Linked DNA regions of Homo sapiens. The protein of the gene in region 1 interacts with the protein of each later gene in a biochemical or structural test. Each region holds a gene or a part of one and is shown on either strand. Other genes may lie near its edges. The genes, in order: METTL22 and KIN.

Region 1 (15,680 bases):
CCCATTGACCTCCTGCCCTAATTTGGATGGTACATTATACCAGGGGTATACAAACTGCAGCCTGTGAGCCAAATCTGGCCTGCAGCTATTTTTATAAAGAGTTTTATGAAGCCACAGCCATGCCCAGTCATTAACGTGTTTTTACAGCTGTTTTTGTGCTATAACGGCAGAGTTGAGGAGTTGCAACAAAGATCACAGGGCCCACAAAGCTTGAAAATAGATACATTTTATGAGACAGGGTCTCATTCTGTCACCCAAGCTGGAGTGCGGTGGTGCAGTCTTGACTCACTACAGCCTCGACCTCCCCAGGCTCAGGTGATCCTCCCATCTCAGCCTCCCAAGTAGCTGGGACTATAGGCACATGCCACCATACCTGGATAATTTTTTTGTAGAGAAGGGGATTTACCATGTTGCCCAGGCTGGTCAAATTCCTGGGCTCAAGAAATCTTCCTGTCTTGGCCTCCCAAAGTGCTGGAATTACAGGTGTAAGCCACCATGCCCAGCCAAAAAACTTTTTTATCTAACCTGTTACAGGAAAAGTTTGCTCACCCCTGCCTTATGTGGTTGCCACATCTGTGTCACACAGAATGCAGTTTTACTATATTCCTGGTAATTAACACAGCCTGTAATTATCTTGTTTACTTGCTTAATGTTTCTTCCCCAACTTCACTCCTAAAATGTAAGGCCCTAACATACCAAATCCTGCTTTGTACCCCCAGCACCTGGCATGGTACTTGGCACACAGTGTTCGGTGATGAATGAATGGATGATCGGACAGATTCAAAAACTGGCATAAACCCGGGATGCTGTGTGAGCTTAGAGGAGAGGCCCCTGAGCTCATTCCTAAAAGTTGTGTGGCCTTGGTCAGCTTAGTCCTCTAAGCCTCAGTTTCTGGGTCTGTAAGATGAAGCTGATAATGGTATCTTCACAGCAATTGTGGAGATTGAATGAGCTGATATGAGCCAAGTGCCTCATAGATTCTCATGAAATGGCGGCTGCTCTTGGTGGTGGCCCCAGCCTCCTGGCTGGTGGTGGTCACAGCTGAATCAAGTGGGCCTTTTCTGCTGGCATTAGTATATCTCTACCTGGCCTTTAAAAATCTTTCCTATTGGTAATCAGATATTCTCAAAGAAGAAGAGGAAGGTAAAAAAGAAAACATCTTGGAATTCTCATTTTGCGTTCTGTCTTGCCTTTCAGTTTTCCTGTCCCAATTCAAGCTTCTATGGAGCCAAGACTCTTGGACAGATTCAGGAGCCAAGGGTGGCAGTCACAGAGATGTTCACACAAAGGAGCCTCCTTCTGCTGAGACAGGCAGCACAGGGTCCCCTCCAGGAAGTGGCCATGGTAATGAGGGTTTCTCCCTCCAGGCCGGGACTGACACCACTGGCCAGGAAGTGGCTGAAGCTCAGCTGGATGAGGATGGGGATTTGGACGTGGTGAGAAGACCACGAGCCGCCTCTGATTCCAACCCAGCAGGGCCTCTGAGAGACAAGGTACATCCCATGATTCTAGCACAGGAAGAAGACGACGTCCTGGGAGAGGAAGCACAAGGCAGCCCGCACGATATCATCAGAATAGGTAAATAGAGGTGTGATGTGGCCCACCTGTCACCAAGGCAACTCCGCAGTGTCACTGCTCAGGGCTCAGTATGATCTGAGCGTGGACTCTGCAGGCCCAGGCAGCACAGGTTATGAGAACCAGCTCGGGTGAGACTGGGGAAGCTCTCCACAACCCCGTCACTCCTGCCCGGCTCACACCACCACAGCCTCACCCTGTGCGCTTTCTTCTCTGTGCTGTGCCTCCTTGCTGGAGTGCTTGCTCCCAGCCTCTGCTCCCTTAACATGTTCCCCATTGCCGTACAGTTTCCAGCTCAGCCACACCTCCTCCAGGAAGCCTCCCTGCTGCTGCCTCCCACATCTGTGCTCTTGCTCTAACTCAGCGTGTTGGGGGTGTGGGACAGGCTTGGCCTGGCTGGGCTGGCAGTAGGGAGCCATGGGAGGTTCTGGAGCTGGAGTGTGGCAGAGGGAGAGGGATGTAAATGAAAATGAATGGGGCGTGGACCAGTCAGATGGACTGGGAGCTGGGAGCTAGAAGCCAGGTAAGAAAGGGGAGTGATGAAGTGGCGGGAAAAGTGGGACAGGAGAGAGGTTTGGACAGATACTCAGAGGTGGGATCAAAGAGGAACTGCTACCCAGGTATGGGGGCAGAGCAGAGGGGTTTGCTGACTCTAGGATTTGAAATCTAGGGACCTGGCACTCTAGAAACACCGGGAGCAGTAGGGAGCTGGGCCAGGAAGTGATCGGTCCTGGTTAAGCACCTATCGTGTTTTGGATATCTTCACTAGTATCGAGTGGCCTAGTCTGCACAACCCCTCCTGAGGGGGTGCATGGATGAGGAAGTGAAAGGCCTAGCGCCATGCTGCTTGGTGGTGGTGAGCGAGCTTCGAATCCACACAGTGTCCACACCAGGGCTTTGCCTCCCCCTGGCGCTGCTCATTTGGGGAGCGGAGCTGTGATTTGAGGCCGTTCATTGAGATCCAGGGTCCCCGATGGTGTCTTGAGTTCCCAGGGAAAGGCCTCCCCCAGCACTGGCCTTTGGTCAGAGAATGGGGGTCAGTGGGTCACTCTCAAAAACAGACAAAACAGCAGCTCTGTATCTATCTGCTCAGCAAACAGTTACTAAGCGCCTCCACGGTGGTACCAAGCAGCCTCTGTTCTAGACTGTCCCAGAGAGGGCAACGTGGAACTCATACCAGAACCCAGTTCCATGTATCCCATGGGTGACCTCTGCCCTCATGGCCTCTGCAGATAGGGATGAGTATTCCCATTTCACAGAGGAAGAGACTGAGGCTCAGCGAGGTTGAGGAACTTGCTGGGGTCACACAGCTAGTCAGTGGCAGAGCTGAGACTTGTACCTAGGTCTGTCTGACGCCACAGCCTGTGCTGTCATTCCACATCATGGGGGCAGAGCTTTCGAAAGAGGCTTGGAAAGTCCTGCTTCTCAGGGGGGCCGACGATGGCTCATTTCCCTCTGAGCCCTCACTGTTATTAGCCTCCCCAAGCTGGGGAGCAAACCTGTCAGTTACTCCACAGTGAATTGTTGTGTCTGTAGTGAATGTTCTGGGAATTTACCATTGTATGAGCTAAGAACAAAGTCCCTCGGGAAGAGGCTGGCCTGTGACCAGCTTCCCCTCCTGCCCTGTTCCGGTGACCTCACGGTGAGGCCCCCTTGTCTGTATACCTGGAAGTTCACTTTTTCAGCTGTCAGTCACTCACTACCTGCCCTGACGGAGGAGAGTGGAATGGTAGCTAATGCATGAACCTAGGTAGTAATTCGTGATTATTTCAAACTGGCTAGAGCACTTTCATCTGCAAAACTTGATCTAATCCTGCAGGGCTGGATTTTGAGCCCAGCTCCATCTTCACAAGCCAGGTGACCAGAGACAAATGTCTTACCCACTCAGAACCACATGGTCAGAACCACGTGATCAGGGGAACCACTGTCCCTGGGTTTTAGTGATAATTTATTGAAACATGCCCAGTGAGCGCCAGGAGCAGGGCCTGGCGCAGAGTTGATGGTAAGCAGACGTCATTCGCCTCACAACCCTTTTCCTCTGACCCGTAAATCAACCCATTTTTTTCAAGTTATAGACCCATTTGAGAAACTGGTTTTTCTAAAGAAAAAGAAAAATAGGTGTTTTCTTAACTATTCCAAGGGATTGACAAAACCTTAAAAAGTTTATCCAGGGATCTGCCAGGAATCCACAGACCCAGGATTCAAAAGAAATTATGTTCAATTCCCCCACTGTAGAAATAAAGTGAGACCCCAAGAGAACTCGAGAAAGGCAGGGCTGGAACTCAGGCCGTCAGATTCTGAGTCCCGTGCCTTCCTGCTGGAGAATCGGGCAAGTCGCTTAGCCTCTCTGAGTTCAGTTTCCTTGTCTGTACAAGGGGTACAACCTCCTCCAGTTGTAAGGAATTCAGAGAGACAGCACATACAAAGCTCTTAGCGTAATGCCTGGCACGGATTCAGTGTTCCGTAAATGTAAGCCTCTGTCCTGGGGACTGGCCCAAGCTGGGAGGAGGGAGACTGGCTGACGAACAGTCTAGGTTCCTGCAGGTCTAGAGACCCAGTTTGCAAATGAGATAAGACGTAATTCTAGAATCTGATAAGGACAGGTGAGATTCTAACACTGTCTCATCCCATTGCTAGCCCTAGAGTTTCTCATGGGGATAGTTCCTCAGGCTGGTCTTTTATGTTCTCATGATACCTTTGGGATTATTTAAATATAAACTCTGACTTTTCACAGGAGTGGGAGCCCCAAGATGGCCCTGGGTAGGGAGGTCCCTAAGTCACCTGGGCCTCCACCCCTAGACTGAATCCTTCTTCCTCACCCCTATGCAGCCACCTGGACCGCGCCCGGCCCAGGGCTGACATACTGGGCATTTGTTGTGATCTCTGACTATCCTGATGAGTCATGAAGAAGCATATTTACCCATTCGAACACTAGCAAGTGCCTGAAACGGGGCAGGGGTCGGGTAGACCTCGGAATCTCTGCACTCCGGAGTCGAGGATGTCAGACACAAGAAAGGAGAGTGCCCTTAAGGTCGGCCACACTCAGCTTCCTGGGGAATTCATTCTGGCTTTTTCCATCTGGCCCCAGGGAGTTGCACAGCATCCGCTTCTTCCTTTGATCCATCCCTGAGCCTCTTGTTCTCTCCCTTATCAATTCGCCCTGGTGTTTTCTCGTGTTATCAGCATCAGCAGAAAGCACATCTTAGATCAGTTCTTGGTCAGACTCCCAAATGACTTCATTTTAAATCCTCTTTTGTTTCTATTTGGCTTTAGAAAAATATGGGTCTCACTTTGCACTTCGTTACCCAGGCTGGTCTCAAACTCCTGGCTTCAGGCGATCCTCCTGCTTTAGCCTTCCAAAGTGCTGGGATTATAGGTGTGAGCCACTACCCGGCCATCTCGACACATTTTGATCTAATTAGATGTTTTTTTCTCAGACTATGACCCTGGGCTGGTCATGTCCCCCTTCTGGGCTTCAGTGATCTCCACCTGTGCAAGGGCTGGGGTCCTTGACCACCTCAATGGTTCTCAGATGTCTGCCGAGCCTGTGCTCTCTCAGAAGCGCTGTCTGGTTAAACACTGTTACAGCCTTAGAAATGAGGGATGAGGCTACTTCTGCATTTTGCAAAAGAGGAAACTGTAGCTCTGTCTCCAAGAAGTTAAGTGACTTGTCACCCAGCTAGGAAATGACAAAACTGGGTTGTCATACAGGTCTCTGACCTCAGAGTCCTCATTCTCCCTCAAGGGAAGCTAGCCACCCATTGAGGACAGCTGGGAGGCAGAACTTACGTCCACGAGACCCCTGGAAGGAAGTGACCAATCACATAGGACCAAGATCACTATGAGAAGGTTCCCCTGGCAGCAGGAACCCTTAGGACAGCTGGGGTTAGGGAGCAGATGGCAAGGAGGAAGCTTTCCCAGGCCAATGGAGGGAGAGGAGAGGAGAGGAGGCTACGAGCCACACCCAGGAGATGGCATGGGTGGGACTGGGGAAGAGGAACTGGGCAGGGACGCTGACACAGAGGGCCTGGGGTCTGTAGACCACAGACACCCCTTCCCCTCCACGCACAAGCACACAAGCCTTCAGCCTGCCCAGCGAGTCCCTGTCCCTTTCATCCTGGGAGGCTCTGCCCCAGGCTTTTTAAACCGTGTCCCTGGCATGGTTCAGATTCTACATCTCCCTTCCCCAAGCAGGCTGAAGAGCTAGAAAAGGCCGGGCACGGTGGCTCACACCTATGATCCCACTTTGGGAGGCCAAAGCAGTGTATCACTTGAGCCCAAGGGTTTGAAACCAGCCCTGGCAACATGCTGAGACCCTATCTCTACAAAAACTACAAAACTAAAAAAATTTAGCCTGGCATGGAGGCATGCACCTGTAGCCCCAGCTACTCGAGAGGCTTAGGTGGCAGGGTCACTTGAGCCTGGGAGGTGGAGGCTGCAGTGAGCCTTGGCCGTGCCACCACACTCCAGCGTAGATGACAGAGTGAGACCCTGTCTCAAAACAGAAAGAGACAGAAAACTGCAGATGACCTGACTTGGAACCCCGCATCTGCCACTCACCCTCTCTGTGACCACAGCCTGCTAACCTCACCCAGCCACCTTTTCCTCATCCAATAATACTCGAAGCTGTCATTGGGTGATTTTGAGGATTAAATGAGAAAGCATTTAGCCCAGTGCCTCATGCAGAGAAGGTGCTTTTTTTTCTATTAACTTTACAAACAGTAATGCTGAACCTTAGTCAGTGTCTTTCTCTGTAATATACATGTGAGCCAATCAGGTAGAATCTCAGTGGCACCCAGGGCTTGCTCACAGAATGTGTCTGTCTAGTGAATGTTGGTTCAGTGAAGGAACTTTGCATCAGGTGGTTCGGCAGGTGTATTTCTGTTCCAGTTTCAAACCAGGTGACTACGTGTTAGGACGTAGCAATCTGAAGCCCTTCTGAAAGGAACATGTTTTATTAAAAGTGCCTTGTAAGCCACCATGTCAAATCTAGCCAAGATGCTGGTGGACAACCCATTAGTCACTTTATTCAGAGATCAGATTCTAACTGCCCATAGGGCTGAAATCTTTGGCCAGATTTTCCCAGGAGGAGCCCTCAGAGAACAGTGGCCCAGGTGCCCAAGAGGACCCTACACAGTCGATTTCTTTCCTGGTTCGGGGACAGACAGAGCGATTGGCGATAGCTGTTACCATCTCACTTAAAAATACTTGAGCAAGTTATTTTCCCTCCTCGGGAGCTCTTAGACAAGCAAGTTCTTACTTAACAACAAAAAATGCTTTGCTTCATTCCTTTTCTCCTTGATCTTATATTTCCATTGTGTTCCCCCCTCCACCAGAATTTGATCCTATTAGGGTATATTATAAATACAAAATATATTATATTTTGCACTTGAGAATACTTATACTACTTTTCAACGTTTTTAAAAAGGATGTAAATTTAAACTTATTTTTTTGTTAACTTCTAATGTAGATTTCTAAGTATGAGAAAATAATGAAGTTAAGTATGTTTCTCAGTATAAGAAAATACTTTTGAATGAATTGTGATTATTAGTAGTATATAAATTAATATATTATGATTGTAACTTTGCAATTATTGGTCATGAAAAAAGTAGTGCACTGCATGTGGGTGCAATTAAATTGCGTGAAAACCTAATTGTGACCCTCCCTAGCCTTGGGCTGTAGGGCAGAGATACCCAGTTACATGAAAGAGTGTGAGCCCCATTCCAAAAAGCTCCCATCCTCTGAGTGGTGCTCAAAAGTCGCCTCCTAACCAGTAGCACAGCCTGTGTTTCTGCTGCTCTCTAGAACGCCTCATTCCAACCTCTGACGCCCATCTGACCGTGCTGGCGGTTGCCACACTGTCCTGTCTTGTGGTTTTCTGTCCATCCCCATTTCACAGTGGGCATTTCTCTTGGTTTCTGTCCCATCCAGAGCACACCATGGCCACGCCCCTGGAGGATGTTGGCAAGCAGGTGGGTAGGTCTTGTCCGCTTCCTGTGGCCCTGATGGGTCCCTGCAGAGCCTCACGCTGCTTGTCGCTCCTTGTCCTCTTCCCTCCAGGTGTGGCGGGGCGCCCTGCTCCTGGCAGACTACATCCTGTTCCGACAGGACCTCTTCCGAGGATGTACAGCGCTGGAGCTCGGGGCCGGCACGGGGCTCGCTAGCATCATCGCAGCCACCATGGCACGGACCGTTTATTGTACAGGTAATGAGGTGACATCTCAGGCTGCAGGGAAGTAGTCACCTTCACAAAGCATGCACTGACTGTATAAAAAAAGAGGCAGAGGCACTGGAAATTGGATGTTAGCTGTTGTTGATTTTGCCATCCTGGTCCCCTGGCCCTCTCCACTCTCCATTTATTCTCAGTGACATCAAAATGACCCAGCAATACCCACTCAGCAGCAGCAGCGTCACCCAGTGGCTATAAGGCCATTGAGCTTCAGGAGGTGCCTAGCGCCCCTGCTGGTACCTCTCTCCCCACTCCTGAGAAAGAGCAAATATCTCCAAAAACAGGAGGAATATACCCTTTTAGAAGCCTTTGAAAGCAAGTTTATTATTTTTTTCCTGGGTATAGAAGCCTTGCCCATTCTTTGTAGGAGGTTTTTAAAACAGTACATAAAAATTACTCATAATTTTACAATCCCTAGATTGAATCAACAATATGCAACTTATGGGTCACCTCCCGTGTGCCACTCATTTCTAGATGTAGGAGGCCCTGCGGTGAATGGAGCTGACTAGGCACTGCCCTCAGGGCGCTTACGTTGTAAGAATCTCCTCCAAATGATAGCTGAAATCAAGCTGCAGCAGCACTGTATTCTGCTGAAAATGTTGAAAAACATTTTTAAGAGCATTTTCTTTTTTAAATATGTATATATTTAGGGGGTACAAGTGCGGGTTTCTGATGTGCAGCTATATTGCAGTGATGACATCCGTCTGGGCTTTTAGTGGACCTTCCACTCAAATAGTGAACATTGTACCCAATAGGGAAGCTTTAATCCCCCACCCCTCCCACCGTGTCACCTTCTGGAATCCCCAGTGTCTGTGTTTCCACTCAGTATGTCCATGTTTACCCGTTGTTTAGCTCCCACTCATAAGTGAGAACATTTTAAGAGCATTTTCTCATGCCATTAAAAAATTATTATATAGGCCAGGTGCGGTGGCTGACATCTGTAATCCCAGCCCTTTGGGAGGCTGAGGCAGGCAGATCACCTGAGGTCAGGAGTTTGAGAACAGCCAGGCCAACATGGTGAAACCCTGTCTGTACTAAAAATACAAGAATTAACCAGATGTGGTAGCGGCGGGCACCTGTAATCCCAGCTACTTGGGAGGCTTGAACCTGGGAGGCAGAGGTTGCAGTGAGCTGAGATTGCACCACTGCACTCCAGTCTGGGCCACAGAGTGAGACTCTGTCTCAAAAAAAAAAAAAAAAAAACAAACTTTATATATGACTTTTAATGACCAGATAATATTTCATCTTCTTTGTAACCCTTCTCCTATTGCTGAGCATTTTGGCCATTCCTATGGGTTTTGGTTTTTTGGTTTTTGTTTTTTTTTGCATTTGTCAGTTACACTGTGATGAACATCTTTGTATATTGTCTAATAATCTGTCACCTAGGTTCCTAGGAGTGGGCGGTGTTAGTTACATTGCAATGAACATCTTTGTGTATCGTTGTCTAATAACGTGTCACTAGGTTCCTAGAAGTGGGTGAGACTATTCTTAAGCTTTTGATGAACATTACCAACTAATTTCTTTTTTAGTATTTAATTTTGAAATAATTTCAGACTCAAAAGGAGTTGTTAAAATAATCCAGCAAGTGCCATATGCCCTTCCTCTGGCTCCCCAGTGGTGACATCACACACAACCATAGTACAGTGATGAAAACCAGCCAGTGAAGTTAACTAAACTCCTAACGTGCCAGAGTGCTTTCTTTAGAACAAATATACCTGTTTACAAGAGAGTAGTGATCTCGTCAAGTGAACCTTGTTGTTATATTTTAAATCTTTAGTATCTGCTGGACAAAAAGAGGTATCAGCTGATGTGGTTTACACCTCATTGCTTCCTAGTGAACGTTACCTGGCACAGACTTTTGTTTCTGAGATAGGAAGGAAGAAGCTAGAGATCACCAGTCCCTGAGGCACTGTTTTCAAATATGCTGTTAACCACTGGTCAGGAGTCTGCAGTGCAGCCACGCTATTGGCTGCTTCTTGACAATGTCATGTAAATTATCAGTGAGCTCTTCTCAGAGTCAAGCCGTCCAAGAGCTTTGCTTCGTCCCTGGTGCCTAATAGCAGACTATAAAGAAGTCTTATCCCTGAGAGAGATTTACCAGCATGGGGAAGAAAGCTTGCATTTAGATGCCATGTTCCAGTTGGAAAAGTCCTTTCAGATGCATCAGTGCCTGGCTGTAACTTCACAGTGACTCTGGGCAGAGCCCAGGGTTCCTATCTCTGTTGTCCAAATGGGCAGACTGAGGCTGGCCCAAGGTCATCCACAGCTGCTGATGAGACCCGAGGCCCTTGATGTGGACCTGCTGGCCCACAGGGCAGTGTGCTTGTCACGTGGTGGAATTTCAGATTGTGTTGCATGGAACAGAGCTCCCACAAGCTGGCCGAGGGATGCTGGGGAGAACGCACTCAGGGCACCAGGGCTCCTACCCCACTCAGCCAGAGCTGCTCCTCTCTTACCTGTTTTATAGGTTAAAAGCTTTTGACAGAAACTATCATAAAGGTTTAAAAACTGCTGACCCTGGCCAGGCGTGGTGGCTAATGCATGTAACCCCAGCACTTTGAGAGGCCGAGGCAGGTGGATCACCTGAGGTCAGGAGTTTGAGAGCAGCTTGGCCAACACGGTGAAACCCCATCTGTACTAAAAATACAAAAAAAAAAAAAATTAGCCAGGCATGGTGGCGTGTGCCTATAATCCCAGCTACTTGGGAGGCTGAGGCAGGAGAATTGCTTGAACCTGGGAAGTGGAGGTTGCAGTGAGCCAAGGTTGCACCACTGTACTTCAGTTGGTCAACAAGTGCGAAACTCCGTTTCCAAAAAACTGCTAAGCCCATCGTGTGCTGTCAGGTACATATCATCAGTATTCTCTTGGCCTAGGAGATAGGGTAGATCCCTCCCTTCTGCAAGCAGGGAGCTCCTCCCGTACATGGCTCTGTGTGACCCCTGGGGTGCAGATGTTAGTCCCAGGGAGATTGCACTGTGGGTCCACGCCCACAGTGGACCAAGCAAATGTCATTAACAAGACATCCTGTACTTTCTACATGCACATTCTTCTAATTAGAAGTTTATTTTTGGTAAAGCACTGCTTCTGCCAGTGAGGATTCACTGTACCCCAAGTTAGTTCTTGAAATGATGAGAAATCCCACTTGTCAGAGTAGCAGGCGGCTGGGAGGGAGATCTGGGTGGCAGCAAAGTGAATCGCGCTCAAGAGAGTGGGCTCAGCCTGTTTGAATCTGCTCTGTGTTCTGACGAATCATAAGAAAAAATCCTTCTGACCGGAAAACTGGTCCAGTCAGTTTTCCTAGGGTGTCAAAGAACGAGCCTAAATTTGGAGTTAGAAAAACCTGGATCAAATCCCAACTCTTGCTCTCAATAGCTGCATGACTTTGCTCAAGTCACTTAATCCGTGAAATGGGATTCATGATCCCAGCTCCTGTGTGGCCATAAACATGAAAACGATGAACTAGGGAAGTGCACGCGTGTTGCATGTGCTCGGATGATGTTGGGAGCTCACACTCCTTCCCTCTGGAATGCGCACTGTCTCTCCCCATCAGGAGGAGAATCTCTTATTTAGGGAACAAGCCAATGAAAAGAGCCTTAAGGTGAGGGTATTTAATTTTGGCAGTAAGACACATAGGAGAAACGTTTCTCTAATTTCTGCAGTTGTGCTGTTGATCACAGCTCTCTCTAGGCAAAAAACATGGAGATAAAAGTGTCGTAGTGGCTGGCACTTTATGGCTTGCCCTCTGTCATTCCAGATGTCGGTGCAGATCTCTTGTCCATGTGCCAGCGAAACATTGCCCTCAACAGCCACCTGGCTGCCACTGGAGGTGAGGCCCAGGGGGTCTTCTGCCAGGGAGGGAGGTTTCTCTGTTTAGCAGATAGGACAGACACCCAAGACCATGACATTGGGAGGCAGGGCTCCGTCTGTGTCCCTTGCAGCAGGTGAGTAAGGGGAGCAGGCGTCGTCTGGGCATCACAGAGCTTCAGAGCATTGAGGACGCTCCTTGGGTCACCTCCTCATTCCCAGATCCACTGCGTCATCCTACTCCAGCTCTTTCTCTCCCGGACACTGGCGGCGGCCCCTGAGCTGGTCTCCCCAGCTCCTTAGTTGACCCGTCCAAGATGTCCTCATGAAACATCCAGAGTGCCCTTTCTCAGATGCAAGCCAGTCCACTTCACTTGCTGCTGAAAACCTCCCAGGGGCGTCATCACCTGTGGGGTGAAGTCTGAGCTCCTTGAATTCCCAGGCCTCCCTGGCCCAGCCCCGGCCTGCTCTCCTTGCCTCCTCCTGACAGTCTCCTTTCCAGCCCTGCATCCAGCACGGCCAGGACTCACTCACAGGCCAGTCCCCCTGCGCAGATGGGCCTCCGCCTCCATCTGCCTGGTTCTCTGCTCCCTGCACGGCCTGCAGGGATGAGTGTATGTGATGGGTGACGACAGTTATGTCCTAACGCCTCCTCCGAGCAGCCCCCCAGGCTTCAGGCCCTTCAGTGGTTTACTGTTGCTTGTCTCATGTTCTTGGGGATCTGGCCCCTGTCTGTCTGCAGCGCCCCCCACCACCAACAGCCGACCTCACCGTCTTTCAAATCACATTCCCTCGAGTCCTTTGCCCTTGCTCTTCCCTCTGCCTGAGTGCTCTGCCGTCCCTCCTCCCGGCAAGTCCTCATCACCCTCGGGGCTTCAGACCTCCAGATTTGAGGCCAGAGCCCCCAACAGACTCCAGGCACACGTTGCATGATTGCATTTTACCATCTGCTCGTGTGACTAGTTATTGGTGTTTTCCATTCCCACCGGACTACAAGCTCTGTGGGTGCAGGTACCCTGTCTGCATTTGCTCTGCACTGTCACAATGTTTGTTGAGTGCTCAGGGTACAGTAGGCAGTCAGCAGAGCTGGGAGGATGGAGGGAGCATGCTGGTGGAAGCCTTCCCTGACATCCGCTGTCTGACATGAGTTCCTCTCTCTCCTCCTGTGCGTTTGCCTCATCCTTCTGGCATCACCCAGCCACACAGTCTTGCCGTTGTTGGTTAACCTGCCAGTCTCTCCTAGGGGAGCTGGTCTGCAAGGATGGGGAGCATGACTCTTAAATCTTTATTTTCCCTATGTCTGGCACCGTCCCTGACACGTAGCACTCAAAAAATGCTGGAAGAATGGACGGATGGATGGAGGGAAGGGACAGAAAATGGATGATGGATGAGGAGGGAAGGAGGATAATAAGGATGGGTGGGTGGATGGGTGGGAGGGCAGAAGGATGGATAGATGGGTAGATGAGAGGATGGATGGATGGATGGATGGAAAGATGGGTGGATGGGAGGGAGGGAGGGAAGGAAGATGGGTGGGTGGATGGATGGATGGATAGATGGAAGGGCAGGAAGATGGGTGGGGGGGTGGGTGGATGGATGGATGGATCGATGGATGGCTAGAAGGAAGGATGAGAAGATGGATGGGAGGGAGGCAGGGAGGGAAGGAAGATAGGTGGGTGGGTGGGTGGGTAGATGGATGGATGGATGGATGGATAGAAGGAAGGGCCGGAAGATGGGCAGGTGGGTGGGTGGGTGAATGGATGGATGGATGGATGGATGGATGGATGGATGGATGGATGGATGGATGGGTGGGTGGATGGCTGGCTGGCTGGCTGGCTGGCTGGCTGTAAAGATGGAAGGGCAGGAAGGTGGATGGGTGAGAGCAAGGGTGGGTGGGTGGATAGATGGATCTTCATATATAGTGTAAAAGTTTATCTTTTTTTCCTGATGATGTTTAGAGTTTGGAAAGTTCTCTTTTTGTTTGTTTTTACAGGTGGTATAGTTAGGGTCAAAGAACTGGACTGGCTGAAGGACGACCTCTGCACAGGTGTGTGTTTCTCTCGGACGTCCCCCAGTATGATTCAGTGATTCCTTTGTAATACCTCAGTGCCCCTGGCTCTGTGGTTTTGACAGAGCTGTAGTCCCAGCTGCTGCCACAGTCCCATCGGCGCATGGCAGCTTCTCTCCATTGGCCGATGAGCACCAGCTGTCATTCTCTGAGCGCCTGCTGCATGCTGGGCACCTCACGTTCATTTTCTTCTCCAGGTGTTGTGGTTTCCCTGTGTGGTAGCATGATAATCCCTGAATTGTGAGTGCAGACTGCCCATGGGCACAGCTGGTACACAGCAGGGTAGGGGCATAGACCCGAGTTTGTCAGACTCTGGGGCACAGACCATTTCCCAACAAACAGTGGTGCCAGGAAACCCCCCGGGTAGGACAGTTTCCATATTTCTTACACAGACTACTTCAGACCTGGGTGCTTGCTCTTTCTTTGTATAAAGATGTCTTTTTTTTTTTCCCTGTCAGATGGCAGATGGGAAAAGTCGTTCCTTGAGTACTGGTCACCTGCCTAGCACTTTGCGCACCGTAGGCCCTTCGGCCCTCCCAATAGTCCTGTGAGGAAGTAGTACTGTGCCCTTTCTGTGAGTGCAAAACTGAGGCTGTTTTCCTGGGCCACCCAGCAGGCAGAAGGGGGAGATCATGTCCTGCACTGGGCCACAGGCCAAGGCAGCGGGTGAGGCTGAAATCCGCCCGCTGCTCACTGGCTAGAGCAGACACTCAGCAGAAAAGGCACCTCTTCCACCATGACTCTGCACCCGGGCAGCAGTGGGCCTGAAGCAGGGAGTCTGGTCTGCCTGGTGGTGCCCACTGCACCGAGCTACCCCCAGCCCTGTTTCTTCTCTTGAAGTGCCTTTTGGTCAGTCCCAGTGAGAGTTGGTGGCCAGGAGAGAAGGCAATGGGCACAAAGTGTGCTTTTGTTCTTTCTTAGATCCCAAGGTCCCCTTCAGTTGGTCACAAGAGGAAATTTCTGACTTGTACGATCACACCACCATCCTGTTTGCAGCCGAAGGTAAGAAAATTTCTCCTTCGCCGTACACGTCCTTTGTTGTAGCATGAAGTCAAGTGCAGTCTCTCCTCACTTCCCCCGGGAGTTCAGTTTTAGAAGTGACTTTCTGGTACATGCCACCACATCTGCAGTTTTAATTCTGGAAGCTGCTGCTGTTCCGTGGTGATAAGCATTCTCTCTGTGCGGATTGCTCTGAAAAGTCGATTTCTGTAATATTTGCGTGTTTTCCTCTAATGCTGGCCTTTTTGCTTCCCACAGTGTTTTACGACGACGACTTGACTGATGCTGTGTTTAAAACGCTCTCCCGACTCGCCCACAGATTGAAAAATGCCTGCACAGCCATACTGTCGGTGGAGAAGAGGTGAGCTTTGCGCCACGGGAACCGTGCTGACGTCCCGAGTGTCAGCGGAACTCTCACCTCCTAATTGTGTCCTTGTCAGTGTCATTATGATTGTTACTCAGTGCCACTTATTGAGCACCTACTATGTGCCAGGTCTGTGCTCATCCTTTGTGTACGTTACTGCACTGAATCTGCATCCTAGCCCTGTGTGCAGGCGCTGCTGTCCCACTTGACTGATGAAGAGAGGAAGGCTGGGAAGCATCAGGGGCCTTGGCCAGGGCACGGCTAGTTAGTGATAGACAAGGACTTGAATGCAGACTGTACTGGAACCTCAACGCTTGGCCAGCACACACTGTTGAGAGCTTCTCTTCCTGAATGTTCTCTCTGTGGTGCCGTCTGTCTCTTCAGCTCCCCCAGGTCTCTTTCTCTTGCTGAATCGGACAGCTCCTCACCCAACAGCCTCACCCAGACATTTCCACTAGAATATCCTGAAATGTTAGGTTCCATTTATTGAGTGCCCACCTTGTGATAGCTACACACATTCTCCTGTAATACTTAACAGTAGTCCACAGCTTTTCTGAAGATCGTTCGGAATCCACAGCAAAAGCTGTAAAACGAAACAGACTTCTTCACCCAGCAATTCAGCATCTGGAAATTCACACTCAGGG
Region 2 (15,212 bases), on another chromosome or scaffold:
CTTTTTCTCTGCATTCTTCAAGAACCTGTCCTCTGGTCGCATTGAGTTATTTTCTAAAGAAATCATAAACTCTTCTACCTCCACTCCTTCCTCATTCTGTACACTCAGAATAAAATCTCTTCCTCCTTAGCCTTTTGTCTTTCCCCGCTGTCCTCTGACCTTAAAGACAGTTCAGAAGCCACCTCCTCCATTCAGCCTTGCTGTTTGCCTGGGGGGCACTAATCATTTTCATCTTCATTCTCACAGCATTTTACTTGAGCCACTATTGCACCATGTACTTCATTCTATCTTACATTCGTGATTATGTCTGCCCCTTGCACTAAAGTATTACTTTCTTGAAGTTACTGACCATGACTTATGTTTATAGTTAACACCAAACATTGCCAAATTTAGTGATTGCACATAGATTTTTTTTTTCCTTCACCAAGTATTTGTTGAATGGTTAAATGGGAAAGAGCGGGAGAGGGAGAGTGGGGATGGGGGAGCGGGAGGGGAGGGGAAGCAAGGAAGGATTATCTAAAATAATTAGGTTCAATAACAAAGGAGTACTTTCTTGGGAGTAGCTTGATTCTTCATTGCTTTTGGAATTGAATCATATTAATCTGTATGTCAACAATAATAGTGTGTCTCCTTTGTTTTCCTGCATTGTATATGGCTCCTTAAAAAATATATCTCCAGGCTGGGTGAGGCGGCTCACACCTTTAATCCCAGGACTTTGAGAGGCTGAGATGGGTGGATCACTTGAGTTCAGGAGTTTGACACTAGCCTGGGAAACAAAGTGAGACCCCCCATCTCTACAAAAAATACAAAACATTAGCTAGACATGGTGGCACATGGATGTTGCCCCAGCTACTCAGGAGGCTGAGCTGGGAGGATGACTTGAGCCTTGGAGGTCAAGGCTGCAGTGAGCCATGATTGCAACATTGCACTCCAGCCTGGGTGACAGAGGGAGATCCTGTCTCAAAAAACACCCAACTCTATTTTTCTGTCTACACACATATTCACACACGTGTATGTATGTTTCTTATATTTGTGGGTGCATATTTGTGTGTATTTCTTATTCCTTAAGTCTTTCTTATTCATTTTTTATCTCTAGTATCTAGTCTAGTGCATACATTTTTAGCTACAAAATAAATATCCACTATATTTGTAAAATAACATAGGGTTCTGAAGAAGGCTCCGTGACAAAGGGACAATGGAGTATGAACCACTGGGTCCCCAAGACCTGGAGGAGTACCGAGCATGTAGGAGAAGCACAATAAATATTTGTTCTGATTAAATTAAAGATGTTCAGGAATGACATAGTGCTCAAAATCATCTTCCTTTTAATGATTTTGTTTACGTTTTCTTTGTATATTTTCCAGTTGAAAATGACCCACATTTCATCATTTATCTACCAAAAAGCCAAAAGAACATTTGTTTCAATATTGACTCAGAACCTGGAAAAATCCTCAACCTGGTTTCTGACCCAGAATCAGGTAAAATAAAAATAAATTATATTTGCACCAATTAGGTCATTGTCATGCTTTCCTGTCACTGCCTGGGATTTCTTTCTTTCTCAGCTTAATAGAAGTTCTATATATTTCAGTGATATTAGTGAGAAATTAAATTATAAATATATTCTTAACTATTTTGAACCATTATAGTTCAAAATATATACTCTGAGTATGAACTTGCAGATCTTGTTGTGATATAATTAATTTAAATATGAGCCAGGAACGGTGGCTTACACATGCAATCCCAGCACTTTGGGAGGCCGAGGTGGGCGGATCATCTGAGGTCAAGAGTTCGAGACCAGCCTGGTCAAAATGATGAAACCCCACCCCCCACTACTAAAAATACAAAAACAATTACCCAGGCGTGGTGGTACACACCTGTAATCCCAGCTACTCAGGAGGCTGAGGCAGGAGAATTGCTTGAACCCGGGAGGTGGAGGTTGCAGTGAGCCAAGATCACACCATTGCGCTCCAGCCTGAGTGACAGAGTAAGACTCCGTCTCAAAAACAACAACAAAAAATTTAAATACTATATGATAGTCAATTATTTAAATTTTATAAACTGACAATTAAATTTTATAACTGATATAAAATTATTAAATTAAATTTTATTAAAATTTATAAATGTTATATTAACATGTTATAAAATGAGAATCACAAAGAAGAAAATGTTAATGTAAATCTTGAAGCAAAATTATAATAATTTTCCAATATTGCCAAGTTTTTATAAATTTGAATTATAGTACCCACACATGCAAAATAAATGGCACAGAAGAGAAAACATCATTTTTTTCTTTCCTGTAGGAATTGTAGTCAACGGTCAGCTTGTTGGTGCCAAGAAGCCCAACAATGGAAAACTAAGCACCTATTTTGGAAAACTGGGATTTTATTTCCAAAGTGAAGACATAAAAATAGAAATCAGCACTGAGACCATCACCCTGAGCCATGGTTCTAGCACATTCTCCTTGTCCTGGTCCGACACGGCTCAAGTCACGAATCAGAGGCAAGTATGATTCCATCTGAACTTGGGCCTGTCCGTGACACACGACTGCATAAATAAATCCAGGCATCAGTGACATCAACATTGAAAAAAAATCATCATTTTAAATATAAGGAAGTTGAGGTTCAGAAAAATTGTTCTCACTCCCTACTCTGTTCCTGGCAGTGGGCACTGTGTGTTTTTGGTCACCGTTGGGTCCCAGGACCTAGTCCAGTGCCTGGCATCAGTAAACACTCACTGTGTATGTGCTAATCAGTGAACAAATCCACCAGCTGAAATCCATACTGACTCTATCGCAGAGTGAGCTCCAAACGCCATGATTGTGTCCTCTGCGTAGAAGCTTCCCAATGAGTTTCTGTTAATCCATCATTTATCTATAAACTGTTGCAAGCGCTTAGATAACTAGCGGAATTGTCTGGGAGGAGTGAAGAGTTCATATTAGGGGTGAGAAGAATGACTTTCTCAAAAGGTCTGTTCTGGAATGGTTTAATTCCTCTTGGACTTTCACACCAGGGTGCAGATCTCAGTGAAGAAAGAAAAAGTGGTAACTATCACCCTGGATAAAGAGATGTCCTTTTCTGTTTTACTTCATCGTGTTTGGAAGAAGCATCCCGTCAATGTTGACTTTCTGGGAATCTACATACCCCCTACAAACAAGTTCTCACCTAAAGCCCACGGACTAATAGGTAAAGTGTCTATTGACCATCTGACAAGGGTGGGGCCGCTCTAATTCTTTAGCAGCTTTGGTTGACAGTGGTTACAAGTTGAGGACATGGCAGGTGTGGACTCATGAGCACAGAGGACTAACATAGCAGTGTGGGGTCGCTCGGGAATGTGACAGCCAGGACCTTTTGCCATTCCAGACAAGGTTGTCCAGGGCCAGGATTTCAGCATCACAAACTGGGCAAGTTAAGAGAAGGGACAGATACATTTTAAGTTTTATGTTAAAGATTTTTTTCTAACTGAAGCAAGATGAACCCATTTAGGAGGTCTGTGATAACAAGCAGAACACTCTGGACAAATGTCCCTAGTATTTTAAGAAGGGCTCAAATATAAAGCCTGTGACATCACAAACAAAACTTTTTCCTGTGATCTGAGCTATACTCTCAGGTGCTCACCTCATTCTCCTGCCATCAGGGTGCTCGATTTACTTACAATCCACTAGACCAACCTCATGTATAAAATGACCATGAGCTCCAGGCATGGTGGCTCGTGCCTGTAATCCCAGCACTTTAGGAGGCCTGGGCAGGTGGATTTGCTTGTGGAGTTCAAGGGCAGCCTGGGCACCCCATCTCTACCAAAAAATTAGAAAATAAAAATAATTAGCAGGGTATGGTGGAGCCTGCCTGGAGTCCCAGCTACTCAGGAAGCTGAGGTGGGATCTCTTGAGCCCCGGAATTGGAGGCTGCAGTGAGCTATGACTGTGCCACTGTGCTCCAGCCTGGGTGACAGAGGGAGACTCCATCTCTTAAATTAATTAATTCATTAATTTATGAGATGGAGTTTCTCTCTTGTTGCCCAGGCTGGAGCGCAGTGGCGCAATCTCGGCTCACCGCAACCGCTGCCTCCCCGGTTCATGCGATTCTCTTCCCTCAGCCTCCCGAGTAGCTGGGATTACAGGCATGCACCACCACGCCCAGCTAATTTTGTATTTTTAGTAGAGATGGGGTTTCTCCATGTTGGTCAGGCTGGTCTCAAACTCCCAACCTCAGGTGATCTGCCCACCTCGGCCTCCCAAAGTGCTGGGATTACAGGTGTGAGCCACCACACCCGGCCCCAAATCTTAAATTTAAAAAAAAAAAAAAAAAAAAAAAAAAAAAAAAGGCTGTGAGTAGTGGCTCACACCTGTAATCCCAGCACTTTGGGAGGCTGAGGTGGGTGGATCGCTTGAGTCCAGGAGTTCAAGATCAACCTGTGCAACACGGTGAAACCCTGTCTCTACAAAAAATTAGCCAGGCGTAGTGGCTCACGCCTGTGGTCCCAGCTACTTGGGAGGCTGAGGTGGGAAGAACACTTGAGCCCAGGAGGTGGAGGTTGCAGTGAGCCGAGATAGCACCACTGCACTCCAGCCTGGGCAACAGAGGGAGATCCTGCCTCAAATTAAAAAAATAAAAATAAAAAAAAGATGGTGAGCAGCACAAATGTGCTCCCAGGAAGGACCCTCCCTCCCATCACCACTCCTTTTTCCTCTCAGCTTGTCTTTCCACCCTAGAAATCCTGGAGGGAGGACCGAAAGGTAGCATGGAGTCAATAATGAGCCTCTTTTTATTTAACTATGATTACATGTCAATCAATGTCTGATTCTGTTTTGCTAGGCCAGTTCATGCAGGAACCAAAGATACACATCTTCAATGAGAGACCAGGAAAGGACCCTGAGAAGCCAGAGGCCAGCATGGAAGTGAAGGGGCAGAAGCTGATCATCACCAGGTAGGCCTCGGGCGTAAGGACAGTGACGAAAAGGCCTTGTGTTAGAATTAGACCCACACAGCAAAATAGAGGAGCAAAGAAGAAGTGTCGTAGGCACTACCTACATCACACTAAGCAGTTCATTAGGAATAGACGCACACAGCATTCGCATAAGGACACTTCTGATATCCCACGTTAAATGCAAATAATGACTGGGTATCTAGGGTCATGCAATGCCAAGATTAACTAACCTGTTGTTCTCATCTTCATACTTTAGAAGCCCTCACAAGAGCTTCACAAGTTGGATAACCAGACACGTTGATCAAAGGAGAGAATCATAAAACACCTATTACCATAGTGCTGCAGAATGAATGTAGATTTTTACATCAGGCTAGAGTTTTCCTTTTGCACAGGGATCTCTGACTGCTTTTTTTGTAGCTTTTCTTACACAAACCACCCCCATATGCTTCATCTGAAGTGAGAACTTAGACGCTCATAACGCATTCTGAGTGTAAAAGTCTTACAAATCTTGATATTTTTTCCCAGTCCTTTACAGTTGTCTCACCCATGCCAAATTTGATACCGTTTTAAAGCAGCTTACCCCTTTTTAGAGTTTTTACAAAGCAGCCAACTTTGCTTTATTAGAAAGGATTCTTCACGCCCACAAATGTCATTGGCTTTGACATACTTAATTAAACCATAACATTGTAACATAAAATTGTAGTCGGAAGTATTGCCACGAAAGTAGATTTGTGAACTGAAACAATGGATTCTTAGTGAATATGCCATTCAATTAGTATCAGTTTATGGGAGGAATGAGGTACCGACGGGAATCAGTGAGCATGTGTCACAGAAGCAATGGTGAGCACAAATTATTAATGTTAATAGTAAGTTATCTGAAGTTGGTAGAAGGGCATTTACTGCCAGGCATGGTGGCTCATGCCTGTAATCCCAATGCTTTGAGAGGCCAATGTGGGAGGATCACCTGAGACCAGGAGTTCAAGACCAGCCTGGGCAACATAGTAAGACTCCATCTCTACAAAAATAAAAATAAATATAAAAATAATTATCCAGGTGTAGTAGATTCTGCCTATAGCCCCAGCTACTCAGGAGGCTGAGGTGGGAGGATCCGTTGAACCCAGGAGTTCGAGGATGAAGTGACTTATGATTGTGCCTCTGCACTCCAGCTTGGGTAACAGAGAGAGACCTGTCTCATAAATAAATACATAATATATAAATAGGCCAGGCGCAGTGGCTCACGCCTGTAATCCCAGCACTTTGCAAGGCCTGGGTGGGTGGATAACCTGAGGTCAGGAGTTCAAGACCAACTTGCCAACATGTTGAAACCCCCCCCATCTCTACTAAAAATACAAAAATTAGCCGGGTGTGGTGGCGGGCGCCTGTATTCCCAGCTACTCGGGAGGCTGAGGTAGGATAATCACTTGAACCCGGAAGGCAGAGGTTGCAGTGAGCAGAGATAGCACCACTGCACTCCAGCCTGACTCCATCTCATAAAATATGTATATATATTTATATATACATATATAAATAAATATATGTATACATATATATATATATTTACTATAATGACAAAAAGTAAATGCTGGGCCTCGATTTGGTCCACTGCAAGCACCTCATGGTTCATAACTGAAACTGAGCTGTCCCGTGGGCTGGGCACAGTGATACTTTTAAGTCTCGTTCACGCAGTGTGAACGAGATCCTTAACAAATTGTTGGCTACTTTGCCCTTCAAGTGGAGGACATGAATCTGCTCAGAAACAGCAGGTATCACTCTTAAACACAGAGAAAGTGCAGTTAAGAGGTGCCGCCAATGCATTCTTTTTTTTTTTTTTTTTTTTTTTTTTTTTTTTTTTTTAGTGACAGAGTCTTGCTCTGTCGCCCAGGCTGGAGTGCAGTGACGTATCTTGGGCTCACTGCAACCTCCACCTCCTGGGTTCAAGCAATTCTCTTGCCTCAGCCTCCCAAGTAGCTGGGACTACAGGCGTACACCACCATGCCCAGGTAATTTTTCTTTTAATTTTTAGTAGAGACAGGGTTTCACCATGTTGGCCAGGCTGGTCTTGAACTCCTGGCCTCAAGTGGTCCGCCCACCTCAGCCTCCCAAAGCGCTGAGATTACAGGCGTGAGCCACCATGCCTGGCTGCTGACTCATTCTTTAAGTGACCTGTGAGGTCAGCCTCAACACTGTGGAGTCTTGTTCCTGCCTTCTTTCCATTGGCTACTGTTTCCCTCGCTGGAAAAGCCCATATAGGTCAACTCTAAGGGTTCTTTGAGTTCTCCAAGGACGCTTCGCTGATTCTCTGTGCTTCCAACACCAAGCCCCAGACTTGGTGTTTCTTTTTCACATGACTTGGGGAGCAGCGATAGGTGGGGGGCGGCAGATGTGGTGACAGAAGGAACACGAAGAACAGCAAGGAAAAGAGGGAGTCTTGTGTCTAGAGGTGCTCAGTCTCCCCCTAACCACATGCCTTGCTTCCTTGCAGGGGCTTACAGAAAGACTACAGAACGGATCTAGTGTTTGGAACGGACGTTACCTGCTGGTTTGTGCACAACAGTGGAAAAGGATTCATTGACGGGCATTACAAGGATTACTTCGTGCCTCAGCTCTACAGCTTTCTCAAACGGCCTTAAAGGTTTATAGTTTGGGAAATTATATATATTAATATACATCTTTCCCCTGTCACTTTTGCAGATATTCTTCGGTTTGAATAATTAAAATGAACCAGATATCAGGGTGGTTAATTAAAATGAACCAGATATCAGGGTGGTTTATAAAGCCTGTAAACACACCTAAGAAAATAAACATTTTACAAATGAGCTTTTAGGATTTTGTTGCATTTTTAGATGCCGAAGTGTGTGGATCAAGGTGGTGCCGAGACAAGCCAGCGTCTGGAAGAGCCTTAAATTTGGTGTTTACTGTGATCATTTATTAATATCTTTTCTTTCTTTTTTTTGAGACAGGGTCTCGCTCTGTTGCCCAGGTTGGAGTGCAGTGGCGTGATCATGGCTCACTTCAGCCTCAAGCTGGGCACAAGCAATCCACCCACTTCAACCTCCCTAGCAGCTGGGACTACAGTCGCATGTCACTATGCCTGGCTAATTTTTGTTTTTTGCAGAGATGAGGTCTCACTATGGTGCCCAGGCTGGTCTCAAACTCCTGGGCTCAAGTGATTCTCCCGCCTCAGCCGTCCAAAGTGCTGGGATTACAGGTGTGAGCCACCATGCCCAGCTGATCATTTCACTGCTGTTGAGTCTCAGGTCCTCAACCTTGCAGATCGCGTCCATTTTTACACTGCTAGTTACATGGGAAGTACAATTATGAGAGGGTTATATGGTGAGCATAGAACAAGAAATGGGGGTTACTTGATCTTAGGTGCTTCGTAGAGATTTATACTAAAGCCCTGTTACCCTCTGTAGAGATTTATACTAAAGCAAGGATAGCCTTGCTATGGTGCCTGTGATAGCCCAGTATTTTTAGCCAAGATTCTCTTCATAGTGTTGGTCCCTGGGTCCCTTTTGAGTTTATGAGGCCTGGATTAGCCATAGTTCTCCAGGAAAACAGAACCCATAGGAGATTTACAATAAGGATTGGCTCATGTGATTATGGAGGCTTGTAAATCCAAAATCTGCAGAGTAGGCTGATGGTACAGGAGAACTAGGGAGGAGCCAGTGTTCCAGCTCAAAAGCCATCAGGCAGGAAGAGCTGATGCTGCAGATGAAGTTCGAAGGCCGTACACTAGAGAATCCCCCGACTTTGGGAAGTCAGCATTTTTGTTCTATTCAGGCCTTTGACTATTAGACGAGGCCCACCCACACAAGGGAGGGTGATTTGCTTTACTTTTTTTTTTTTCTTGAGATGGGGTCTCCCTTTGTTGCCCAGGCTGGAGCACAGTGGCACAATCTCGGCTCACTGCAACCTCCACCTCCCGGGTTCAAGCGATCCTCCTGCCTCAGCCTCCCAAGTAGCTGGGATTACAGGCGTGAGCCACCATGCCCAGCCCTACTTGGAGTTTTTGTTGCTCCCAAATTCTGCACATATTTAAAATCGCTCAGGATGTTACCTCAGATGGCTAATTATACACATTGTTAATGTTGCTAAATGAATTCTGAATCATAGTTCCAAATTCTCTGGAAGCCCTCTGTGTCTGTGAATCAAGTTTCACACAAATTTAATATACCTTGAACACAGCATCTTTTTTAGTACTCCTGGTAGAACTGTTATTTCATTTGCATTTAAACCATTTCTGAGTAATACCACTTACATGCTAAATCTTAGACTTTATTTCAAAATAAAGTAGTAAATTATGTTCTAACAAAAGACCAATGACATTTATAAGGGAGAATAAAATAAGCAACAAATTTAAAGCGAAACTAGGTTACTTTATGCTGTCTGCATTTGTATAGTGGATTTTGGTGCTAAGATGCAAGTCTGAACCAGTGTAATTCTGTGCTTTGCTGTGTTTACAACTTTCCTTAAAAAATCAATTCCTAAAATGAACGTATTTTCAAAAGTCAAATTGGTGAACTTGCACTTTAAAAAAGCTTTTTAAAGGCACATTTTTATGAATCTTCCTTTCCATAATCTGGTAAAAATCATTTTTCATTGTAGAGGCAAAACTCTTTTTTTGGACATATCCAACCCATATTTGAAAAAGCAAGTGAGCTCCTCTAAACCTAATTGCAAAATCTTAAGGAAATCTGATTGTTTCTAGAAGCTAAAGATTACTGGCTGGGTGTGGTGCCTCATGCCTATAATCCCAGCACTCTCGGAGGCCAAGGCAGGAGCATCACTGGAGGCCAGGAGTTCAAGACCAGCCTAAGCAACACAGTGAGACTCCCATCTCTTTATAGAAATAAATAAAAATAAAGATAAACTTAGTGCTGAAGAGGTAAATAGCACTACCTCTTAGTTTTCTTCTTCTATAAGAAGTGCTCACCTATGATACCCTTTTGAAAAACCTACTGCATCTTTTCCATTTCCTATTTCAAAAATAGAAAAATATTAAATATTAGAATGCTAATATTCAACATAAACTTCAAAAGTGAGATTTTAGCATTAACTCTGTTATTTGGTTAAAATCTTGAATTTAAAACTTCTACCTGCAGATATTAAGTTTAGCTTTTAGTATTTTATGTGTGCACAGTGGTCTTAAAAGTAACGATGTACTAAAAATACAAAAAATTAGCCGGGCGCGGTGGCGGGCGCCTGTAGTCCCAGCTACTCGGGAGGCTGAGGCAGGAGAATGGCGTGAACCCGGGAAGCGGAGCTTGCAGTGAGCCGAGATTGCGCCACTGCAGTCCGCAGTCCGGCCTGGGCGACAGAGCGAGACTCCGTCTCAAAAAAAAAAAAAAAAAAAAAAAAAAAAAAAAAAAAAAGTAACGATGAAAATCTTGGGGTGTTAAAAAAGAATAGCTTAAAACAAAATGAGAAGACAGGCCACTGACTGAGAGAAAATACTTGCAAAAGACACATTCGATAAAGAACACAACTGAAATATACAAACAACTCTTAAAATTCAACAATAAGAAAATGAGTAACCCAATTAAATAATGGGCAAAAAACCTGAAAGACATCTCACCAGAGAAGATATACAGGTGGCAAATAAGCCCATGAAAAGATGCTCCACATCATACTTCATCAAAGAAATGCAAATTAAAGCAATGACAAGATCCCACTGTACAGCTATTAAGATGGCCAAAATCCAGAACACTGACAACATCAAATGCTGACGGAGATGCAGAGCAGCAGGAACTCTCATTCACTGCTCGTTTGAATACAAAATGGTACAGTCACTCTGGAAGACAGGTTGGTAGTTTCTCAGAAGACTCCTGGCATATGATCCAGCAATTGTGCTCTTTGGTCGTTACGTAAATAAGTTGAAAACGTCTATCCACAAAAAACCTGCGCACAGATGTTTGTAGCAGCTTTACTCATAATTTCCAAACCTTGTAAGCAACCAAGATATCCTTCAGTAGGTGAGTGCATAAACTGTGGTGCATTCAGACAATAGAATATGCAGTGCTAAAATGAAGTGCGCTATCGAGCCACAAAAACCTAACCAAAACAACATGGAGGAACCTTACATGCATATGTTCTACCAGGTGAAAGAAGCCAATCTGAAAAAGCTACACCCTGTGTGACTCCAACTATATGACCTTCGATGGAGACAAAACTAGGGAGACAGTAAAAAGATCAGCGGTCAGCAGGGATTTGGGGGGAGACAGGGAACAGACAGAACACAGGAAACTTCTAGGGCAGTGAAACTGTTCTGTGTGATACTACAGTGGCAGATGCATGTCATTATACATTTGTCAAAACCCACAGAGACTGCTCTAAAAAGTAAAGTCTATGTTTGAAATAAAGAAAAATAGCTTATGATACTTCAAAAATCAAAGTCTAATATGAGACCTGTTGTTAGTTATCTGCAGTCATTTTGCTTAGCATAAACTCTATCAAGTTCTACAGACTCAGAGGGAAAAAACTACTGTGAAGTCTATAATCGTATTTTTATGCTTCAGATATTTTTTATTGAATTTAACCTCAAGTATGCTGCCTCATTTCATTCTGAAATAATTTCAGAAAGACGTTGGAGAATTAAATGTGGGAGGCAGACATGAAACATTTTTTCTCTGAAGAAAACCACCAAGTTGATTCCAAACGTACATACTTGGGGGAGGCATATGTAATTTGTCTGGTTTTACTCATCACTATTTGTTATCAGGGAGAACCATTCTCCTTTTTGAAATTCTTCAGACCAGATTCTTAGTAGTCCAGGCTCAACTTCTTGGCTTCATTTCTGGACATGACCACTCACTGCCATTTATTCAATACCTACTATGTGCTGGACTTCATGTCTGATGATTTATATGTATTTTCTGTAGGTCTCCCATCAACCCTGCTGAAAAACATTTTGACAATTTATACATTAAAAACATTGCAATTCAAGAACATTAACATTCTAATATTACAAAGCCAATGAACAGAACTGCCAGAATTTGATCTAAAGACTGCCCACACCCAAAACCCAGTTGCTTTCCATAATGTGCTGTCAGGTTACTTTGGAAAAACCTTAATTCATCCCTGAGGAACATTTTCTGTAAAGCTTCTGCCATCATCCTATTAGTATTTCTTTACTGCCTCTTACATTTCTGCTAACAGCATACGTTCTCCCATCTTCTGAGAATAGAAGCAATCAGCCCTCCCTGACTCTCAGTTAAAGAGAGAGATCCCAGGGTTTGGCACCATACCTGTGTCTGACGTCAGCTTATACCCATCCTCATGTTTGAAGTGATCATCCTGGTATGGTCTGTTTTTTGTTTGAACTCTTGTAGAAGATCAACTCAGGCAAGGCGTGGTAGCTCACACCTGTAATCACAACATTTTAGAAGGCCGAGGCAGGAGGATTGCTTGAGCTCAAGAGTTTGAGACCAGCCTGGGCAACATAGCAAGACCTCATCTCTACTAAAAATCAAAAAAATTAGCCAGGCATGGTAGTGCATGCCTGTAGTCCCAGCTACTCGGGAGGCTGAGGTGGGAGAATCAATGACCTAAGCCCAGGAGGACGAGGCTGCAGTGAGCCATGATTGTGCCACTGCACTCCAGGCTGGATGACAGAGCAAGACCCTATCTCAAAAAACAGAACAAAAAAAAAGAGGCGTAGTGGCTCATGCCTGTAATCCCAGCACTTTGGGAGGCTGAGGCGGGCAGATCATAAGGTCAAGAGATCGAGACCATCCTGGCCAACATGGTGAAACCTCATCTCTTCTAAAATTACAAAAATTAGCTGGGCGTGGTGGCGCATGCCTGTAGTCCCAGCTACTCAGGAGGCTGAGGCAGGAGAATGGCTTGAACCCGGGAGGTGGAGGTTGCAGTGAGCCGAGATTGCACTACTGCAATCAGCCTGGGTGACAGAGTGAGACTCTGTGTCAGAAAAAAAAAAAAAAAGAAAAAGAAAAGATAGATCATCTCTCTCTTCCCGGTGCTGCTGAAGGGTAAGATGTAAACCTAGAGTGCTCAAGAATGTAAATGTAGAGAGCCAGCACAGGAGCCAGAGACAGAGCGGAAGCCCAGGGAAGGCTGTTCACACCCGGTCCCGCTGCCCTGGAAGCTAGCGTCTGCTCCTTTCAGTCATGTGCACTACAAATATCCCTTCGTTTTTCCTTTGGCACAGGCAAATGTGGGTTTCCTGTCTTTTGCATTCCCTAATAATACACTGCCCTACTTATTTCAAACTGTATGGTTAGGCAGGGTGCTGTGGCTCACACCTGCAATCCTAGCACTTTGGGAGGCTGAGGCAGGAGGATCACTTGAGCCCAGGAGTTTGACAGCAGCCTGGGCAACACAGTGAGACCATGTCTCTAAAAGTAAAAAAATTAAAAACAAATAAAACTATAGTTCAACATTGCTGGTAGGACTGTAAAATGGTATAGCTGCTCTGGAAGAGTTTGGCAGAAGCGAAAGCTTCTGTTCACATAAAATCCTGTAAATGGGTGATCATGGCAGCATTATTCACAATAGCCAAAAAGTAGAAACAATCTAAATGTTTATCAGCTGATGAATGGACAAACAAAATACGGTACATCCATACAGTGGAATATTAAGCAGCCATAAAAACAAATGAAGCACGCCTACATGCTACTGCATGGATAAACCTTGAAAACATGATGCTAAGTGTAAGAAGCCAGTCATAAAAGATCACATATTATATGATTCCATTTATAAGAAATGTCCAGAAAGGGCAAATCCATAGAGACAGAAAGTACATTAGTGGCTGTCTAGGGCTAGGGCAGAGGGGAAAAATAGCGATTGACTATTAAAGGGTTTCATTTTGGGGTATGAAAGTGTTTTAAAATCAGACAGTGGTGATGGCTGCACAATTCTGCAAAAATACTAAAAACCACTGAATTGTATGTATATTTTAAATGAGTGAACTGTATGGTATATGAATTATTACCACAATAAAGCTGCTTCTATATTTATAGTTTGACATTTAAAATTTAGTCACACTTAGAGTTCAACTTTACTACTCTACTACTGAAAATATAGAGTGTATGAAGGATTTCCTCCAATTACATGATTCTAAATTGTCATAGATAAAACACTTTATAATAACATTCTTTAATGAAGATATAAACTCATCAAGTAAATTACAAAGGAAACAAAAATAACAAGGACAAAATTACATAGTTTGATACCTCATGAGACATAATTAAATTCTTCTCAAAGTTTAGCTGAACAACTATACAGTAATATTTTCAAAAACCTGTTTGTTTTATACAAAAGAATATACCCTAACACAGTAGAGTCTCATAATGCCTTGGCGAACACCAATTTGATGCTTTAAGATTTTAATGTATTGTTAACAAATTTTCAAACTCAGGCAAGTTTAGAAATGTCTTCATATTGAATTCCTTCAACTCTGCGTCCTTTTAAAGGGCCCTACAAATTAAAATAATTTAAAATAAGGTTAAAAACACATATTCCTAAAAGACAAAAAAATGACACCATACTTATGGATACAAATTTGCCTTTTCCGCATCCCTAAAATACCATTAAGATTGTTAACATTTGTATACATCTATGAATTTTAAGAATAATCTATGGCATTCTCATTAAGAACTACCATATTTTCTTCTGTGACATCTGACATACGTTATCAATAGACATTGTGGCAGAGACCTGCAAGCTGTTCAGTATCTCCTCTGCTTCCTGGATAAATAGCCAGTTTCCTGGCTCCCTTGTGGTTAGCTGTGGCCATGCATGGAGCTCCAGCCCATGAAAGCAAACAGAAGTGACGGTCCAGACGTGCTATAACTGACACACAATCTGCCAAGCTCCTTTTGCCTGCCCAGTGCACACAGACATGGCAACTGGAGATGCCACTTGAGGGCAGTAGAGGCACTAGCTGGAAGGACCCTGGGTTCACAAATCGCCACTTAGAAAGAGTTCCCTGATCAAAAATACCCATTTGGGGTTTTTAGAGTGAAACGTTAACTTCTACCATGTTTGTGCCATTGTCCATTTGGGGTTTTCTTTTTTTTATAGGAAATATCATTTTGTAAGCATTACGATACTCAAACATGTTTGTCTAGGTTGGCTGTGATAGTTACACTGGTCCAGATTATAAAAAGAGTCCAACTTTAACTTTATTTTCTTCTTTCATATCGAACAAAAAGGGAAAGAGGAAAACTTAATTAATGAAAGATATTTTCTATCACAAAAGCGGATATAACCTGGGAACACAGAGGCTAAGAATATGGGCTGTGAACCTACACTCCCCAAGTTCAAAT

What was found.
Region 2: of the proteins of METTL22 (region 1) and KIN, one has a biochemical effect on the other in vitro, tested with the Homo sapiens proteins (2 studies listed by BioGRID).

The regions. Positions count from the first base shown.
Region 1 is NC_000016.10:8,627,533-8,643,212, forward strand, and holds part of METTL22 (methyltransferase-like protein 22), read left to right. Parts: intron 1-1,197; coding exon 1,198-1,578; intron 1,579-7,506; coding exon 7,507-7,547; intron 7,548-7,635; coding exon 7,636-7,780; intron 7,781-11,558; coding exon 11,559-11,630; intron 11,631-11,830; coding exon of another isoform or gene 11,831-11,889; exon of another isoform or gene 11,890-12,144; intron 12,145-13,598; coding exon 13,599-13,652; intron 13,653-14,594; coding exon 14,595-14,675; intron 14,676-14,930; coding exon 14,931-15,033; intron 15,034-15,680. UniProt on the Homo sapiens protein: Protein N-lysine methyltransferase. Trimethylates KIN at Lys-135 (in vitro).
Region 2 is NC_000010.11:7,741,782-7,756,993, forward strand, and holds the end of KIN (DNA/RNA-binding protein KIN17), read right to left. Parts: exon of another isoform or gene 14,368-15,212; intron 14,362-14,367; coding exon 14,299-14,361; 3' UTR 9,181-14,298; downstream 1-9,180. Other genes in the region: ITIH2 (inter-alpha-trypsin inhibitor heavy chain H2 precursor), read left to right, coding at 1,365-1,478, 2,301-2,499, 3,010-3,182, 4,812-4,923, 7,406-7,553. UniProt on the Homo sapiens protein: Involved in DNA replication and the cellular response to DNA damage. May participate in DNA replication factories and create a bridge between DNA replication and repair mediated by high molecular weight complexes.